Regions from separate parts of the Homo sapiens genome. Here region 2 is linked to region 1. Evidence: fine-mapped expression QTL. A gene starts in region 1. The other region holds a variant in brackets. All regions are shown on one strand. Distances are between the middles of the regions.

Region 1 (5,384 bases):
CCACAAGTTTTCCCCGGTCTTCAACGTGTCTCTCTCCAGTAGTCCCTGTGGGTCTGGCACTACCTGAAATCCCTAGAGCCACCCAGAGCAAGCCAAGAGGGTCTACATTCCCGGGTGAGGGGTCTCCATGAAGCCCACTGACAAGGCTGGGAACTTGATGGGCCTAATCTGGTCTCTGGAGGAAGCAGGAAGGGCTGAGGAAGGCACAGTGAGTCCTTTCCACTCTCCACAGAAGGGATCTCTTTCCTTTCCCCAGCGGTCTGCCCAGCAGTCCTGGGAGATAGCCAGATTCTAAGGATGTGATTTGCTCCAAGTTGGTTCTTGATGGCCTTTTGCCAACTCCCAAGACAGTTTAGTACCCACAAACAATGTAAATGTGGGGGGCCCTCTGACCAGGGCGCCAGACAGGATGTCCTGCAGCCCCCGCCCCCGCCCCATTCTTCGGAGTCTGGGTGGAATTGGATCTGCCCCTGAGGGTGGGAGGCAGCGGGCAGAGTGGGGGGGAAAAATAACCCTCACATTTCGGGATTGTCAAAGCTGAAATCCAGAAAAACTCTCACAGCTAAGGGACTCTTTCACTACTTCTTGGAGGAAGAGCAGAGAGCAGGAATCAGAACGGTATTTTTCTAAATTGTCTTCAAACTCCAGGAAGTAACATGTAGCATATTTTCTCCTTTATAAACCTACAGTATCATGTGAAACCTTGCCACAAATAATGCAGTTCATGATGGTTTACACTCCCAACATTGTCAGGGCTTTCCGTGTGTTGACTGGTTATTAGTTTTAACCTGCACAGAACTAAAAGATTTGTATAATTTTCACAGGATATTAACACTATTGATTTAATAATGGCTAATCCACATCCATGTAATGTGGAAATAATAAACATGTGAAGCAAATGTAGGAGTTCCCTTCATCTTGAAAAGTTGCCCTGATGCCTACTCAATCGTCCCCCTTGGGGCAGTTTTACAAGGAGCATTGCCTGCTCAACACAGGGTTGATTACATGTAACTTCTCTCCCAACGTACTGCCTTTCTAAAGGAAAAGCCTAACTTTGTCAGACAAGCTGAATCCTGTCATTCTCATCTTGTTTACTTGGGGAAAAAATATACCAGTGTCTATGTTGAAATGGGCCACACCTCGGTAGACACTCACCCAAAATGCTAACCGAAAAAAAGAAAAAAAGAAAAAAAAGAAAAAGCACCCTTCTTCATTCCTCCAGATTTCATGATTAGCATGAGTGTTTGCATTTATACAATCACATTTCGGGAACAAGAGAAAAGATAAGCATTTCAAAACAATCACTGCCTTCCATGCAAAGAAATTCCACATCCACTTTCTTTTAAAAGTTCTTTTATCGTTTCTGGTATGCCATCTTTTCACTCAGCACTGAAAGGCAGCTCTTTCTGGGGTGAAAGCACAAAGCCACTCAACAATTTTTAACAGGCACAGATGAAGTTCTCCTGCCCCACCCTCTTCTCCAAACCCAGCTTCCCTTTTGCCTCCCCCGCCCTCCACATCTGGCCAAGAGAAGGCATCTGGAATCCTCATCAGCTCCTGCTTCGACCAAGTGAACCCCTCCCACGTTTCATTTAAAACACCATTTGCCTCCCTCTCTTTCTCTCTCTAACAGTTTTCTTTTTTCATTTTTTTTCTTTTTCTTTTTTTTCCTTTTTGAGACAGAGTCTCACTCAGCTGCCCAGGCTGGAGTGTAGTGGCGCAATCTCAGTTCACTGCAACCACCATCTCCCGGATTCAAGCAATTCTCCCGTCTCAGCCTACCAAGTAGCTAGAATTACAGGCACCTGCCATCATGCCTGGCTACTTTTTGTATTTTAGTAGAGACAGGGTTTCACCATGTTGGCCAGGCTTGTCTTGAACTCCTGACCTCAGGTGATCCGCCCGCCTCAGCCTCCCAAAGTGCTAGGATTACAGGCATGAGCCACCGTGCCCGGCCAACAGTTTTCTTTAAACAAACCAATCCCCCTCTTCCCATCCTGTGAGGAGAAAAAAAATACTTAAATTTAAACAGAAGTGAATAGGGAAGCAAACAGGCAGGAAAAGCAATGTCAAAAATAAACTGAAAACCAGTTATCTATCCACCACCACCCAAAAAATCCCAACCAACAACCAGCGAGCAGAGTAACAGTTCAAGTCCTGAAGCAATCGGAATCAAAACGGAGGAGGTGAAAAACATCTGGCCAGTTCCCGATGTCATTTCCAAGGTGTGTGGTGTTTCCTCCATAAACAGGATCCTATCCCAGTTTGTTTCAAAGTCCCTGCTCCCTCCACATCCTAGAACAAGAACCCGGTCACTGCCAGGCACGATTTTAGCCCCATCCCATTGATTTCCCCAGACTCCGTCCTCAAAATACACTTTTCTGAACTTTCTAGAAAAAGTTGTCTCTGTATCCACTTTGAGCCAAAAGTTTCAAGGACTTGGTTCTTAGAGGATCATAGAAAAATAGCGAAGGAAGAAAAGAAAAAGCAAAACTAAGATGAGGTCAGAAGAAGCAGAGCCGTGGAAAGGAAGGAGAAGTTTTGCTGAGAGTCCCCACAGCGTTGGGAGCTGTCCTACCTGAAGGGTCCCAGCGACAGAGGCGCTCTGAGTGGCAGGTGCTGGCAGCAGCCCTGGTCCGCTCTTCTGGAAGTATGTGACCGCACTGAGGGGAAGGACCTGCCTCCCGAGGTTATAAGTTTCCTCTGCTGGTGTACTGGGGTGTGTAATGGGCGGTTTCTTTTCACCGTGTTTTAAAGGAGTTTCTATGAATCAGTCTGGCTTTAAAAAAAAAAAAAAGATTTGTTGGTAAGCTACGCCCTGCTAAGCTGGCAGTCAGTCAAGAGTGGCTGGGAGTGAGCCATCAATTCAAAGAACCCTGTTGTAGGCTCTCTCTGACTCAGACACACAGACCACAGTGGAAAAAAGGAGGGACATTGCTTCAAATGAGTAACAGGATCACACAAATAGATCTGTTTACTGAAGCCCATTCCTCCTCACCAAAAAGGAGACTTGGTTACCATGGACATAAGGCAAAACACAAGGTTTCAGCCTGGGAGGGGGAGGAAAGGGGCCAGTGTCCTGCTGACTGAAGTCCTAGGTCATCATCAAGCGAGATTCCCAGTCTTCCTCCCCCATTAAAAGCATCAGCTGCTGCTCACTGTCAGGAATTATCAGATTCCTTTTTTTATTTACTTCCCTGCCTGACCCTGGTGCACTGTCCTGTGGGTGGCTGTACAGGGAGGCCCTGAAGGCGAAGGGGACACACTAGGAGCTCTTGCAGCCCTGCCTCTGAGTGATGGAGCACTGATTGAACAGCAGAGAATTCCTGGTCTTTCATTATGCTCTGCTAGTGCCCGTGTGGACTCTCCACATTCCAGGAGGAAGTCCTCTAGTTAAGAACTTTGCTCTCTGTAATAATCAGCTGGACCTTGTTCTACAATTGACTTTCTTGAACTTGGCCAGTAGCATAATCATCCCTACTACCTCCCTGCACCACTCCTCTCTCTCTCTCAACTCTGGAGCTGGGAGAGGCCTGTGAAGTCATCTCATCCCACAGCCCAGGCATTCCACTGGAGAGAGTAAAAGCCCAGATGCCTGAGTTCAAGCCCAGCTCTCCACAAATTTGCTGTGTGACTTTAGGCAAACCACTTAACTTCTCCATGCCTATTTTCTCATGCATAAAATGGAGATGGCAGGTATGTAACTCATAGAGCTATGATGAGAAATACACATATAGGGGCTCATGGCAGTGTGCATAGTGAGCGCTCAACAAATCTTAGCTACAAGGATTATTTTACTGAAGAAGCAGCTCAGGCCCAGAGAGGTGAAGTGACTTATTCAAGGAGATACAGTACGTTACCAGTAGCAGCTTGGATCTAGGTCAGCACATCCAAGCAATTCTATTTCTGTTATTCTCTGCTGCACCCTGACAACTTATTTCAATTCAAAATATGCGTGTGTAGTATTTATTCATTCATTCTGCCAATACAGGCTGCACGTCAGTCTTCACTGGGCCTGATTCAGAGCACTGAGTCACAGAAGTGAATGACATCCCTGCCTCTTGGAACTTATATTCCCTAAAAAGATAGAAAACAGACTGGTGGCTATTCACCAAAATGTTGATCAAATTCGATGATAAAATTATGGATGCAGTTTAGTTTGTTCTGGTCACAATTCTGTATTTTCCAAATCCTCTGCAATGAACCTATATTACTGTCTTTAGGATGTTGGCATGTGGATGGATGGATTTTAGGAAAAAATATTTTAACATGGGAATGTGGAGAATATTTTCTAAGGTGGATGATAAGGAAAACACAACACACACACACACACACACACACAATGATTTGATGATGCTGCATCTTCACAAGTCCCTGAGAACTGAATTCTATCTCTGTAAAAGTAAGAAGGTCTGGATTTTCTCACTGAAAACTGATGACGTGATAAAAGACTGCATGTTTCTCATAGAGTTCCTCACCTCTCCCCTCTCTCATTGCTCATTTGATAATAAAAATGCCTGTCTGAGAGGGGCCACTCCCAGCAGTGGGTTGAGAGTCCCTGTGATCTCTGAGCATCCCAACCCTCAGGGAGGGGAGGGTGTCTGCAGGTGAGGCCAGGAAATCCCCAGGCATGTGCTGGCGCTCCAGATGGGCCAGTCTCCCCTGCTGGAATCGGCCTGTCTCCCTGGCCTTTTCCTACTCTCAGGGTTGCCTTTCACCCCTGATGCCCTCTGCCAGTTTTAAAGTCTCTCTTCCCTCAGCTGCCTGGAAAGGAGAACTGGACTCCAGAGGAAGTGTTCTCAGATGCTGAGGAGTATGTGGTCTGATTGCATTTCTTAAAGAGAAACCTGGAGCCAAGGAATAGCAGAGGGGAGGCATTCTCCCTCCCACCTCCTTCTCGGGCTTAACAAGGGGAAAAATCAGGAACTTTTCTTAAAGTACTTGAGTAGAGGAATCCTTCAGTCTATCTGGATTTCCATGGATTTCACAAAGAGAGACGCTGGGCTCAGGGACGGGCTTCAAAACAGGACCCAGAAAGCAGGAGGCCCAGTTTCCACGCCTACTACCTGGCAGTGGCTGTGAGCGAGGCATCTGCCTGCCTCCATTTCACCTTAAAGTGAGTAGACAGCATCACCTTCCAAATGGGTCTGATAAATCTCACCTTCCTGTGTGCTTTTGGAGATGTCTAGGTTTGGAGAGAAAATATTAAATGCATTGAGCTGTGAAAACACACCCATGCACACATGCAAAAACACATGCACGCACACACACATGCACACATGCACACACAGAGTGGTGCCATAGAAAGCCAAGTTGTGTAAATATTTTTAAAAGATGAATGCAAGTCCAGGATTTCTAAAGACTTATAATTAACCCTTGAAATA
Region 2 (5,384 bases), 64 kb after region 1:
GAAATCTTTCTAAATATATTATTCTCCGTTTTTCTAAAGTTTACTCAACATAATTTATTACCTTCTATTAGGGCAGGACCATGTCTGTCATTACATACCCAGTGCCAGGTACAGTATCCAGGCTTCCAATATATGTTTGTAAAAGAAATAATTACAACCTCTAATATTTAACTTCGATGAAGAAAAATAATGAACTCTTGGACTCATGAGTTCTGGAGAGCTGTTTGCTCTTACCTCAAATCATTACATTTTCTGCATTCTTATTTGTGCTTTTATAATTCTCCTGTCTCCTCCCTCATCATAAAACTGCTAACTTCTAGCTTCTGTTTCTAAAGTTTCCCCCTGCCCCATTAATGTGCTGGTTCTAATCCGCTGTAGATCATAATTAAGCTTACTAGGTCATGCCTGAAATAAAAGTGAATAGTGTTGAAGAGATACAGAATAGTTCGAAGATTTTTTGATGTCCATGTTGGCCACCCAAAGGCCTTTTTTGCATCCTGCTGGTTTCAGCTGTGTTTCAGATGGCTGTGTCTGCCATGTATGAATAATTGCCAAATAAGTCAAATATTACTGTAAGAACTGCAGAAGAAATGCATAATAGACACCTTCTACATTGGTTAGAACATCTCACCATATGTCATCCAGGAAAAAGATTGCTTCTAATTATAGAATCCAACATCTAAATTAACCAGTTCCTCCACACTTGGGAGTCAAAGCCAACCAGGAATCCCAGTCCAGACAAGGGGGAGCCCCTGACACATCTAAAGGCTACAATATTCCTCAAAAGTCCAGGGTAAACTTCTCCCAGTATTTGGTAAATCTTCCATTTGCTGTTGCTTTGGATCTGACAGTAATTCCCTCCCAGGTTCCAGGAGTCTCCAAATTTATCACCATAATCAATCTAGAAGGATTGAGTGTCCCACAGTCCAATGAAATTGTAAGAATCTCTCCTTTATGCAAAAAGGATGCAATAATATATTCTGTCAAGCCACAAAGAGTTCAACGAAGACAGCAATGGACTGGTCCAAAGTAGGGAGGGAAAAAGTAGAGAAATGAGATGGATTTAGAATTCGACCCACTGGTTCCCACCCTTGGTGTGGCCTCTAACACCACATTGGTTCCAATGCAAACTGGTTAAACCATGAATTTTCTTCCCCCTACTTGGTCTGGTTTAGGGCCAGAGAGTTCTTTGTTGGTTGGAGTCAGGCAGGGCAGGGCCAGAAGGCAGAACTCTTAAGCTTCACCCCGAGTCAGGAGCTGCCTCGCCAGATGACCTCAGACAGGTTGTCTGAGCTCTTGGGGGTTCCAATTCAATATCTGTTAAACAGCAATGAGTGTACCCCTCTGCTCATACCATGGTACAAGATTTTGTTAATTGGTATCTGGAAAAGCTTGTATCTTTGGATGAAAGGGTTTATTAAGTTTTGAGCTCTGTTCTTAGCTGAGGTCTTTGTACAGTTGGGTTTTATGGCAATGAGGCTTCTATAATTTCCCTTTGGAGAGTTAATTCTATAAGCCTAAGAGTGTCGTGGCAAATAGATGCATTTACAAACCTCTTCTATTTCCTTCTGACTGATTTTCCTTCTCATAGATGACCAACATAGATTCATTCAACTCTAAGAAAAATTCTTTGAATAATTTTAATTCTAAAAATATTTGGGGGCCGGGCGCAATGGCACACGCCTATAATCCTGACACTTTGGGAAGCTGAGACAGGTGGATTGCCTGAGCTCAGGAGTTTGAGACCAGTCTGGGCAACATGGTGAAACCCCGTCTCTACCAAAATACAAAAAATAAGCCAGGCATGGTGGCATGTACCTGTAGTTCCAGCTACTCAGGAGGCTGAGGCAGGAGAATTATTTGAACCCAAGAGGCGGAGGTTGCAGTGAGCCAAGCTCGTGCCACTGCACTCCAGCCTGGGTGACAGAGAAAGACTTCATCTTAAAAAAAAAAATGGATTAACTAAATTTTTCTAAATAAAATTGTGGATTAAACATAGTAGTAAATCTTGCTGGCTTAAAACATTTAATTTTGAATCATTTAGAAAAGATCATGTTTTTTAAAGTGAATAGATACCTTTTGACATTATCTTTTTTAATAACTTAATTGGGATATAATTGACATACAATAATATACACTGTTTAAACTATACAATTTGAACAATTCTGACATACGTAGACATCCATGCAACCATCAACATAGTCAAGATAATGAACATATCCACTACACCTAAAACTGTTGGTGCACTTTTGTTAGGGCTCACTGTCTCCCTTCCTCCATGGTTTGTATTTTCTAGAATTCTAGGGAAATAGAATCATGAAGCATGTGCTCTCTTTTGTCTGGCTTCCTTCTTTTTTTTATTTTTTTTTGGGGGGACAGAGTCTCTGTCACCCAGGCTGGAGTGCAGTGGCATGATCTCGGCTCACTGCAACTTCTCCCTCTCAAGTTCAAGTGATTCTCCT[C/G]TCTCAGCCTCCCGCGAGTAGCTGGAATTACAAGCATGCACCACCATGCCCGGCTAATTTTTGTATTTTTAGTAGAGACAGGGTTTCACCATGTTGGCCAGGCTGGTCTCGAATTCCTGACCTCAAGTGATCCGCCCACCTCTGCCTCCCAAAGTGCTGGCATTACAAGCATGAGCCACCGCGCCCAGCCAGGCTTCCTTCACTCAGTATAATTATTTTGAGATTCACTCATGTTGTTGGGTGTATCATAGTTCCTTCCTTTTTATTGCTGACCAAGATTCCATTATGCAGATATTCCACAATGGTATATCTATTCCCTTGTTGACGGACATTTAGGCTATTTCAGACACAGCTACTACACACACACAGCTGCTATGGACATTCATGTACTAGGCTCTATATGGATCTATCCTTTCATTTCTCTCAGGTAAATACTCAGAAGTGGAATGGCTGGGTCATATAGTACAGGAAGTCCTTGTTTAACGTCATTGATAGCTTCTTGGAAATTGTGACTTTAAGCAAAACAACATATAACAAAATCAGTTTGAACATAGGCTAATTGATGTACACCAGAGTTAAATTCCTACAGCATATTTCTGATCACGAAAACATCACCAAACTTTTAAATAAAGACAAAAGCAATTATAATAGTAAACACTCAAATAAAAGGGGACCTGGCATGGTGGCTCATGCCTGTAATCCCAACACTTTGGGAGGCCAAGGTGGACAGATGGCTTGAGTCCAGGAATTCGAGAACAGCCTGGGCAACATGGCAAAACACCGTCTCTACAAAAAATACAAAACAATTAGCTGGGTGTCGTGGCGCGTGCCTGTGGTCCCAGCTACTTGGGAGACTGAGGTGAGACAATCACTTGAGCTCGGGGAGTCGAGGTTGCAGTGAGCCACAATCATGCACTGCACTGCAGCCTGAGCGACAGAGCAAGACCCTGTCTCAAAAAAAATAAAATAAAATAAAAATGAGTTATACATACATTTATGAAAGATTAATAAAAACAAGTAAGATAGTTATTTACCCAATTATTCCAGTTCAGTGCCATGGGTGGCCAGAGCCTCTCCCAGCCTCTCAGGGCACAAGGCAGGCAACCACCCTGGACAGGAGACCATTGCATCACAGGGCACACTCACTCACACACTCACACACACACAATCAGAATGGACAAACTAGACACACCAATTCACCTAACGTGCACAGCTCCAGGGTGTGGAAGGAAACTGGAATACCTGGAGAAAATCCACACAGACAAGGGGAGAAGGAGTAAACTCCACACAGACAACAGCCCCAGCCAGGAAGCGATTATTTTTCCTCATCAGTATTATTACAAAACTACATTGAACGAAATGACATTATTCAAGGACCTGCTGTACAATATTCACTTTTTATTAGATCCTGAATAAATAGTGTATTGTAGAAAGCATGACACATGTGAACCCTTATTTATAGTTCTTTGAACCCCTGCAAGTATTTATCATGGTAGTAAAACATTGACACTTTCTTCTTCTTTCCTTATGTTGTGTTAATAATAGAAAGAATTTGCTTTTGTGCTGTGCAGTGCAATTGACAAAAATTCTTTTGCATTCCTTTTAACACGTCATTACAAGTAATTTTTTCTTCTCTTTCTCTGGTTCACTCCAACTGATTGTCTGCTAAAAAACACTAACGTTTCCAAGACTGGATGAGATAGTCTAGATGTGTTCTCGAAAGAACTATATATCCATATTTCTTTTGTTCCCTTGTTTCTCAAATGGCAACACTGACCCTAGGTCATGCTCCCTTGCCAAAGGCTGCCTTGTCCCCTACCTCAAAAGTGAAACTGCAAAGTGTAGCCAGACCCTCCCTCTGACTGCTGTGCTCTTGGCTGCTGCTTTCTCTCTCTCTCCTTTCACATGTCCCCAGACTGATCAATCACTAATGCTGCAGTTGATATCTGACAAATTGCACACCTTGACTCCGATGCTTTCACAGATAAGTCTTCACTAAAAAGATACAGAAACTGGTTTTTATATAATTCCCAAGCTCTGAATCACCTTATTATTCTGTCAAATAAAATTATGTGGGAGATATTGTTGAAGACAAAACTTGCGTTTTCACAGTTTTATGCAAAAAATAACTTCGTTCAATTGTTGCAGAAAAATTTAGTGAGACTTTTAGAATCTTCACTCCAAAATCTCATTTTCTCTCCATCCCCTCTGCACTGCTTTCTCCTACTTTCTTGCTGACTTTTCTTCCTCCACTCTTCCAACTTCTTCTAAATTTTGGAGAAAATCATCCATCAAAGACTACAGCAGATAAATCTAAAAAGAGTCTTTGGCTTTGGGACAACTGGTTTGTTATTGCAAAAGTTAGGTTTTATCACTCCCTACACAAAAAATAATTTAATATGGATTTTTAAAATTAAAAATATAACTACCAGAACACTGAAAAATTGAATTTTTAAAATCATATTGGGACGGGAGAAGTCATCGTAAGGGTGATGCAAGCTCTAGAATCCATAAAGAAAATTATTGACAGATTGACTATGTAAATTTTGCAGTTCTGTGTGTGAAGGATATGATAACAAAGTTAAAAGGTAAGTGCCAGATTTGAAGAAAATACTTGCAATATAAATAAAAAGGGACAATTACTACCCTTAACATATATATATAAAGCCCCCTACATTGAATTAAACTTTAAGATTTGTGCATTTTACTGTATGTAAACATTACCATAAAAAATAAAAAGGACTGTAAACAAATATTGAATTCTGTTATTGATAAGAATCTGAAATAGTATACTGATACCTGCAACTTATTCTGAAATGCATAAAAAGAAGGTGGATTGATAAATGAATAAAAGGATGGATAGGTGAAAAGCTATGTGATAAAAGTCAAAACAGCAAAATGTTATTTATAAATTCTTGGTGG

What was found. PIP is the estimated chance that this variant, and not a neighbour inherited with it, causes the effect.
Region 2: its variant is the best candidate, but not a certain one, in a credible set for the expression of EMP1 in thyroid (GTEx, PIP 0.75).

Annotation. Positions count from the first base shown.
Region 1 is chr12:13,194,067-13,199,450 of GRCh38, reverse strand. EMP1 (epithelial membrane protein 1) reads right to left here and starts at 2,725. Exons shown (of 5, transcript NM_001423.3): 1 at 2,579-2,725. RefSeq lists an enhancer at 185-685.
Region 2 is chr12:13,129,828-13,135,211 of GRCh38, reverse strand. No RefSeq gene overlaps it. Among named protein-coding and RNA genes, the nearest start is that of GSG1, 29 kb to the right of the region's middle. The variant C/G (reference allele first, on the strand shown) is at 2,463.